Linked DNA regions of Homo sapiens. The protein of the gene in region 1 purifies or fractionates together with the protein of each later gene. This does not show direct contact. Each region holds a gene or a part of one and is shown on either strand. Other genes may lie near its edges.

Region 1 (4,262 bases):
CCATTGGTGGTGGTGATGGGGTCCAGATGCCCACTGTGTGCCAGGCCTGGGGCACAGGCATGAGCGGAATTCAATCCCTGATCTTAGGGCTCACAAGCTCATGGGGTGACAGACCTGGCCCAGCTCTCCTAGAGCGGGGTATAGAGGCAGAGTCTAGACAGCCCGTCAGGAAGCCACCTCGGATGCAGGGGTGGGGCGGGCTTGAGGGCCAGACAGCCAAGAGGCCCCAGTAACCCAGAGCCCCTGAGGGGTTGTACATGCCAGGGAGGGGGCAGGGTAGGACGGTGGGCCTTCATTGTCCCCTGAGCACCACCTCCCTCAGCCTGGATGCCCAGCCCCGTGATCCACGGCAGCGCCATCGACACCACCTGTGTGCACTGGGCCCTGAGCTGTGGGCGTCGAGCTGTCTGTCGCTACTACAATAATGACCTGCTCCGAAACCGGTGAGACCTGGTTTGATGGCTTGTGGGAAGGGTGCTGGAAATACTCTCAGAGTCCCAGGCAGGATACCAGCAGGGAGGGGAGGTTTCATTTAAGTCTACCTGCTAGGTGACAGGTGTCATTATATATTCAGTGCTGAGCTCACCAGTCCTTCAAGCTAAACACTGCCCCCCTCCTTTTATAGATGAGGAAAGTGACAGTTAAAGCAAGTAGCCCAAGGTCACACAGCTAATAACTTGCAGAGCTGGGCCTTGACCACAGAGTCTATGCAGGAACTTGGGGAGAAACAGAGGAGCAGCCATGCTGCGAGAGGGACTTGGGGTGAAGGGCTGGGGAGAAAGCCCTGTCTAGGACACAGGAGGCCTGGGTTTCAGGCCCAGCTCTGTCTCCCTCATCATGGGACTTATCTTGTCTGGGGCTCAGTCTTCCCATCTGTACAAAGGGGAACTCAAAGGAACCTGAAGGCACAGAGGCGGCTGGCCTGGGATGGATGTGGAGAGGACTTGCTAGCAGGGCTGGGGACAGGGAGCTGGTCACTTTCAGCTCTGAGGAGGTGAGGAGGGCACAGTTTCTGTGGGCTGGGACTGTCCACAGGGGGCTTCCTAGAAAAGGAAAAGTCAAACAAGGGCTTTGATAGTTAAACAGGGGAGAGGGAATCCGTTTGTTCTTGTGGCAGGTGGCGCAATATAAAATTGCACTTGTCAGGCCCCCTGAGCCCTTGGGCTCGGAGAGAGGCAGGGCCAGGCCAGGCCACAGAGCAGAGTCCAGGACAGGGCGATGAAGATGGCCAGGCCTCTGCTCCCACCCAGGGCTCCTCTGCAGAGCCTCTCCCCCTCCTCCAGGGAAGAGCCACAGCAGAGGTCAATGTCTCCCTGAGGCCTCAGTATCTCTGATTTCACAATGAGTGATGACTGCTGACGTCCATGCCCTGGCCTGGCAGCTCTTGAGTTCAAGGGTCCCCATTCTTTCCCCAGGTTCATCGGCCTCCAGTTCTTCTTCAAAACAGGTTCTGTGATCTGCTTCGCCTTAGTTTTGGCTGTCCTGAGGCAGCAGGACAAAGAGGCAAGGACCAAAGAGAGCAGATCCAGCCCTGCCGTAGAGCAGCAATTGCTAGTGTCGGGGCCAGGGAAGAAGCCAGAGGATTCCCGAGTGTGAGCTGTCTTGGGGCCCCACCTGGCCAAGAGTAGCAGCCACAGCAGTACCTCCTCTGAGTCCTTTGCCCAAGATTGGGTGTCAAGAGCCCTGTGTTCCATTCTGGCTCCTCCACTAAATTGCTGTGTGACTTCAGGCAAGACATTGATCCTCTCTCAGCCTTTGCTTGCTAGTCTGAACCAAAGAGTTGTTTGGGCATTTGCTGTGTTGGCCATTTCTGGAGCAAGAGGGTCTTCTTCCTCCTTCCCCCAGCCAGCCAGCTGTCCTGGGGCCAGGCTTTCCTGGGTGGAAAGAAGTATACCTTTCCCTGGGGCCCTAGGATAGCAAAGTGAGCCATAGTGGGCCAGGCTGCCCTCCATGCTGGGCCCCAGCCCAGGTCTGCACTCGCCTGGATCACCTTCTTTGAGCCTTAGCCATCTCCTGTCAGGTAGGAATGAACTTGCCAGCCTTCAGGCTCGTTCAGCTATGACCATCTGTGCGGTCAGGGTACACTCAGCTCTCCTCCCCAACTCCAGCAGCCTTTAAGAAGTGTCCCTTTGGCGCCCCCTGGAGGCAGAGCACTGAGCTGGACCCTGGGTAGACTCCCACAGGGAGGACGGAGCTGGCCTCAGGAGTGGGACACCCAGACTTGGCAGGGCCTTCAAGAGGCCTGTGTGGGGGCCCCAGGAATCCTTAGCTGAAGCGGGGAGACTCACTCTCCATCTCAGGAAATTCTAGCCCTTGCCCTCAGGGAGCCACGGTTGAGGGTGAGGCCCAACACCTGCCTTAGGGCCCTGGGTGGGCAAGTCTGGGCCCTGGGGTAGGGAGGGAGACTCAGGCCCACACTTGGGTATTTTCTAATTTCAGACAAACACACACTCAGCGCGCACTCACTGATTCCTACACATTGCCAAGATTTCACACATGTGACCAGGGGCCACCAAAGTCCCTGTGACCTTTGTGACTAGGATCCTAATTTCTCTATTTTCTCCTGGGTGCCTGGGTCTGTGTCACCTGGGGCAGTGTGGATAATGTTTAGTTCTGTGACACTGTTTTTTGGGGGTGGCACCTGGTTCTCCGATGCCTGGGCTGGTGTCAGGCCCAGGACTGTAGTGCTGGGAGCAGTAAAGCTCAGCTCTGTGTAATGAGTGATGCTATGGCTTGCTCGTGTCTTATGATCCAATCCTTTTCTACATCAGCCCTTGTTTTGTTTTATGGCTAGTCTTATCTGGCCTGGTTATTTCCTTGCGGGGAGGAGAGGGTTTGCTAATCTGCTCCCAGCCCAACCTATTACCACCCCACCTCGCTGGGACCTACTGCTCGGGAGGCAGCAGACAGGGAGCCACCAGCAGTGGCTTCCTGGCCCTGTGCTGGGGGTGGGGGGAAGCTGGGGGCACATGTGGCCCTTGCCTTCTGAGCAGCTCCCAGTGCCAGGGCTTTGAGACTTTCCCACATGATAAAAGAAAAGGGAGGTACAGAAGTTCCAATTCCCTTTTTATTTTGCTGGTTGGTATCTGTAAATGTTTAATAAATATCTGAGCATGTATCTATCAACGCCAAGAATTTCAAAGTCTCCTTCAACAATATGAGGCTTTTAGGATGTTTATATTCCTTCATCCCTCTTGTTTCCCAGGTTTTGCAGGGAAAAAAAGTCTGGAATTATAGATACAGCTTATTATTAAATTTGTTCTTGCATAATGTCTCTTCTATTACAAAAATTCTTTCTTCATAAACTGCATTAGAGGTTTGCAACAACCACATCATTTCCATTAACTTAGATTTAGGTTTTACTGGATTCATTGCTCACCATTATTGCTTGTATATTACATCTTTTCCAATCTTTATATTCTGGTCTAATTTTTGTTTGAGTGTCTTCGTCTACTAATGGTTTCAAAAATGGAATAAGGTCATGAGGATTTCTGAATCCTCACCTGTCCAAATTGTCATTCACATTTTATAGAAGAGGAAACTGGCTCAGAAAGCACAAGTGACTTCCCCAAGATCACACAGAAAATAAATGATGGAGCCAAGGTTGGATGTGTAGACCTTGTGGGAACTGAAGGTTTTATAATTTGAGGAGCCCTCTTTAAGAAAAATATACAAAATTATGAATATAAAATTAGGTACAAGGTACCTATATTTACCTATAATGAGAAAAGAAATCAAAACAGATACATCACACAATCCCCCCAAAATGCGTAATACTTTTATTAACTGCCCTGCTTAACCTCTGAGACACATTTTCTCCCCCTGATGATTAGAAGAATTTTCCACAGACTAGCTTCTGGCTCTGTACATTTCAAACCTGGTTTCTCCTGTTTCTTGTCTACTGCCCATATACTTCCTGGGCTGGGTGCCATGACACACATTCATATCACGATATGACCTCTGCATATGGCAACTTAATATCACCATGCCAAGTGAGCTGGGCAGTGGGTAGAATTCCTAGAAGCTATTCTCTACACAGAGATTACTAGCAATGATTTATCTATACACAGAGAACCACATAAATATTAATATATCCTCTGTTTCAGAAAACCACATAAACATATCCCAGTGAACCCAACTCAAATCAGTCCCCCACTCAGCTTCCCCTTGGTCAGATCCCAGAAGTGCCCATGGCCACTCCAATTATCCCACATAAAGGAAAATTGAAACACAAGGGAAGTTGGAGTGGGAAGAAAATAGTA
Region 2 (3,819 bases), on another chromosome or scaffold:
AGGAGGTTAAGGCTGCAGTGAGCCATGATCGTGCCACTGTACTCCAGCCTAGGGGACAGAGTGAGACCGTCTTGAAAAAAAAAAAAGAAGAAAGAACCGGCTGTCCACATGTAGTTTTGCAATGAATGTTGGTTAATATTTTTGCTCACCTTAATGAGGAGTAAGACCAGGGGTTGGCAAACTTTTCCTGTAAAAGATAAGGTAGTAAATATTATTGGTTTTGTGGTTGATGTGGTCTCTGTTGCAATTATTAAACTCTACCATTTTCGTAGGAAAGCAGCCACAGGTGATACTAAACAAATGAGCATGGCTGTGTTTTGATAAAACTTAATTTTTAAAAAGAAGGTGAGATGAACTTGGCCCACAGACCACAGCTTGCTAATCTTTAGTCTAGATGAAATAATAAATTAAGACCTTATTTACAGTATTCGCCTGTAACGTAAAAACTCTCAACATGGCTGATTTCAAGTAACCAAAGGGTTACTTGAACAAGGAGTTGGGAAGAGATGTATCATTATATAAAATTTCCACCATACACATACAGCAGACATGAATAACTTCATGAGCTCACATGACAGAAAAATGTAGCAAAATAATTAGAAAATGATGAGTTTTTAGTATTTATTACCTTTGTCTTTAATGTAATTTAATTATACGTTTATATAGTTTTAATTTTTAGTAATGGCTTGCACAATTCCTGAAAATGTAACAATCACTTCTCTCAAGCCAGCGCAGGCCAGCTTCCCCTGCACCACTGACTCTAGCACTTACCAGATTTTGGGCAAGTTATTTACCCTCTCTAAACCTCAGTTTTCACCCTGTAAAACAAGAATAATATTAGTACTTAGCTGAAAGGATCTTGGTAATTTTTTTTTGCCAGACTGTTGTTGGCACCTTAAACTGCTCTGATATATAACATGTCCAGTTCCCTTCAAGTCTTATCGACCTTATATTTTCTCATATAAACCATGTTAACTAGTTACATAGATATAAAATCATGCCTTAAAGTTCTAACTTGCATTTATTTTTATTTTTTGAGAAATGAGGTCTTACTTCATTACCCAGGCTGGTCTTGAATTGCTGGGCCCAAACAATCCTCATGTCTCAGCCTCCCAAAGTGCTGAGATTACAGGTGTGAGCCATGTGCCTGACCTTAACTTGCATTTCTTTAAATTTTTGTAAAGCTACACATTTTCCTCCATTTGCCTTACTTTCCATATTTCTACGTGTGATTTTCTTTTCTTTTTTTTTGGAAACGGAGTCTCACTCTGTCATCCAGGCTGGAGTGCAGTGGTGTGATCACTGCAACCTCCACCTCCCGGGTTCAAGCGATTCTCCTGTCTCAGCCTCCCGAGTAGCTGGGATTACACGTGCTACCACACCCAGCTAATTTTTTTTTTGTATTTTTAGTAGAGATGGTGTTTCACCATCTTGGCCAGGCTGGTCTTGAACTCCTGACCTCAGGTGATCTGCCCACCTCAGCCTCCCAAAGTGCTGGGATTATAGGCGTGAACCACTGTGGCCGGCCTACTTTTCTTTATCAACTAAAGTAAGTTCTGGATTTTGAACCTCATTTCCTTTCTCCTGACCAACTCTAATAGAACCCACATAGATTTCTTGTTTCCAGTTCTCCCCACCTCCTGCCAATCTATCCTATATAGCTTCTACCAAAACTACCTAAAGTATGTCTGAACTCCCTTATATCACAAACCTCTGTAGCTCTCCAGTTGCTCCTGAACAAAGCCAAACTCCACAGCCTGGTATTCAATTCTCCCCAAAACCTCTTCCCCACAACCAGGATCTGTATCCAACTTGACTTTCCAACATTAACTCTTGCAATTCCCTTTCTAATGCCACCCTATGCTCTAGTGAAAGTCAACTATCAACTGTTCCTTATATGTAATCCCCAGTTTCCTGCCTCCATGTCATGCATGTCATTACATCATTGCTTATGAGTGTACTGTCTTCATTTTTTGTCTTTGTGCCCAAATACAACACATATTTTAAGGCTCAACTCAAGAGCAATCATGTCCATGAAACTTTCCCTGATGCTGCCTCTCCTCCCCTCAACCTCACTGGCCCCAGTACTAAAAGGTCCCTTCTTTCTCCAAACTTCCATAACATTCTATCTGACCCTCTCTTATAACACTTTAAGCTTTTGACATTTTGTTATAGACTTACATGTATATTATATCCCCTATACTGGACTGTAAATACATTGAGGGCAAGATCAATGTCTATTTCATCCTTTTGTCTCCTATAACACTGGAAACAATGCTTTACCCATAGTTTATACTTAAAATGCCATAACATTCAAAATTCAATAAATACATGTTAATAAGTTATGTATATAATCTAGATAACAGACTTTGTAATTTCTTCATGTGTACATTTTTCAATTCTGTTTTGTTTCTGTATTGATTTTTAAGTATTTATTTCTTTTTCTTCTTGTTCTTTTGTTTGATTAACTCTGATGATCTGGGGTGCTTTGTAGGGAGTAATCTGACATGTAGCTTTAAGCTGATGCTTTTCCATACTGATACCCACTTTTCTAGCAAGTTATTAAATTGTGAGTTCTTTCTCTATTCTGATGTTGCTTCGACTTTATTAAGTTAATGTGATGATTTGGATTTATTTTTAAATCTTTTGTTTCACTGACACAGTTCTGAGTACTTAACACGATATCATTGTTTACAATGTACATTAAAACTTGATGGCTCATGTATTTGCATTAGTTTTTCCTTTAAAAAATATTCCTTGGGGCTGGGCATGGTGGCTCATGCCTGTAATCCCAGCATTTTGGGAGGCCAAGGCAGGCAGATCACTTGAGGTCAGAAGTTTGAGACCAGCCTGGCCAACATGGTGAAACCTAGTCTCTACTAAAAATACAAAAATATGTGGGCATGGTGGTGGGCACCTGTTCTCCTAGCTACTCGGGAGGCTGAGGCAGGAGAATTTCTTGAACCTGGGAGGCGGAGGTTGCAATGAGCCAAGATCATGTCATTGCACTCCAGCCTGGGCAACAGTGAGACTCCGTCTCAAAAATATATATACTATATATTTTTTTTGTCAAATTTTATTTTATTATTATTATTCTTAATTTATGTTTTTGGGACTGCATGCCATAGTTTAACTGGTACAGTTTTTTTTGCCTTTTTAGTGTAATGTTTAATAAAGCATAGCATGCATACAGAAAAATAAACATAAGCCTTAATGAATTTTCACAAAGTGAATACAACCATATGACCATCGACCAGATGAAGAACCAAAACATTATCTGTACCCAAGAACCATTTTATGTTTCCTTTCAGTCAGCCTCCCTAAGGGTAATCATTATCCTGACTTTTAGCATCATAGATTAATTTTGCCTGTGTTTGGACTTTATATGGGAAGTCTAATTTATACTTTAAATGAAAATATACCATATATATACTTTTGCTTCTTTTGCTTTACATTGTGCTTTGGAGATTCTTCCATATTATTGCATATATTGTACTTTGTACATTTTTAATTGCTGTATAGTATTTCATTGTAAGAATCTACCACAGTTTATCTGCTCATTTTACTGTGGGTCTGAATTTTAGTAGTTTCTATGCTTTTGCTATCATAGTGCAGCTATGAACATTTTTGTGCATGTCTTTTAGTAAAGATAAATACACCTTTCTACTGGGTATATACTTTGGAGTGGAATTGCCATGCTATAGGGTATGTGTAGGTTTATGTAGCTTTAACAGATGCTAAACATATTTTTAGCAAATTTCACTCCCCTGGCAGTGTTATGAGAGCATGTCTTTTTTCATTGTCTCCATTGTATGTGTG

Evidence for each region.
Region 2: the proteins of SLCO2B1 (region 1) and SLC28A2 purify together in Homo sapiens (affinity purification with mass spectrometry; one large-scale study listed by BioGRID and IntAct). This does not show direct contact.

Annotation. Positions count from the first base shown.
Region 1 is NC_000011.10:75,202,985-75,207,246, forward strand, and holds the end of SLCO2B1 (solute carrier organic anion transporter family member 2B1), read left to right. Parts: intron 1-322; coding exon 323-443; intron 444-1,415; coding exon 1,416-1,596; 3' UTR 1,597-3,565; downstream 3,566-4,262. UniProt on the Homo sapiens protein: Mediates the Na(+)-independent transport of steroid sulfate conjugates and other specific organic anions.
Region 2 is NC_000015.10:45,255,181-45,258,999, forward strand, and holds part of SLC28A2 (sodium/nucleoside cotransporter 2), read left to right. Parts: intron 1-149; exon of another isoform or gene 150-187; intron 188-771; exon of another isoform or gene 772-818; intron 819-3,819.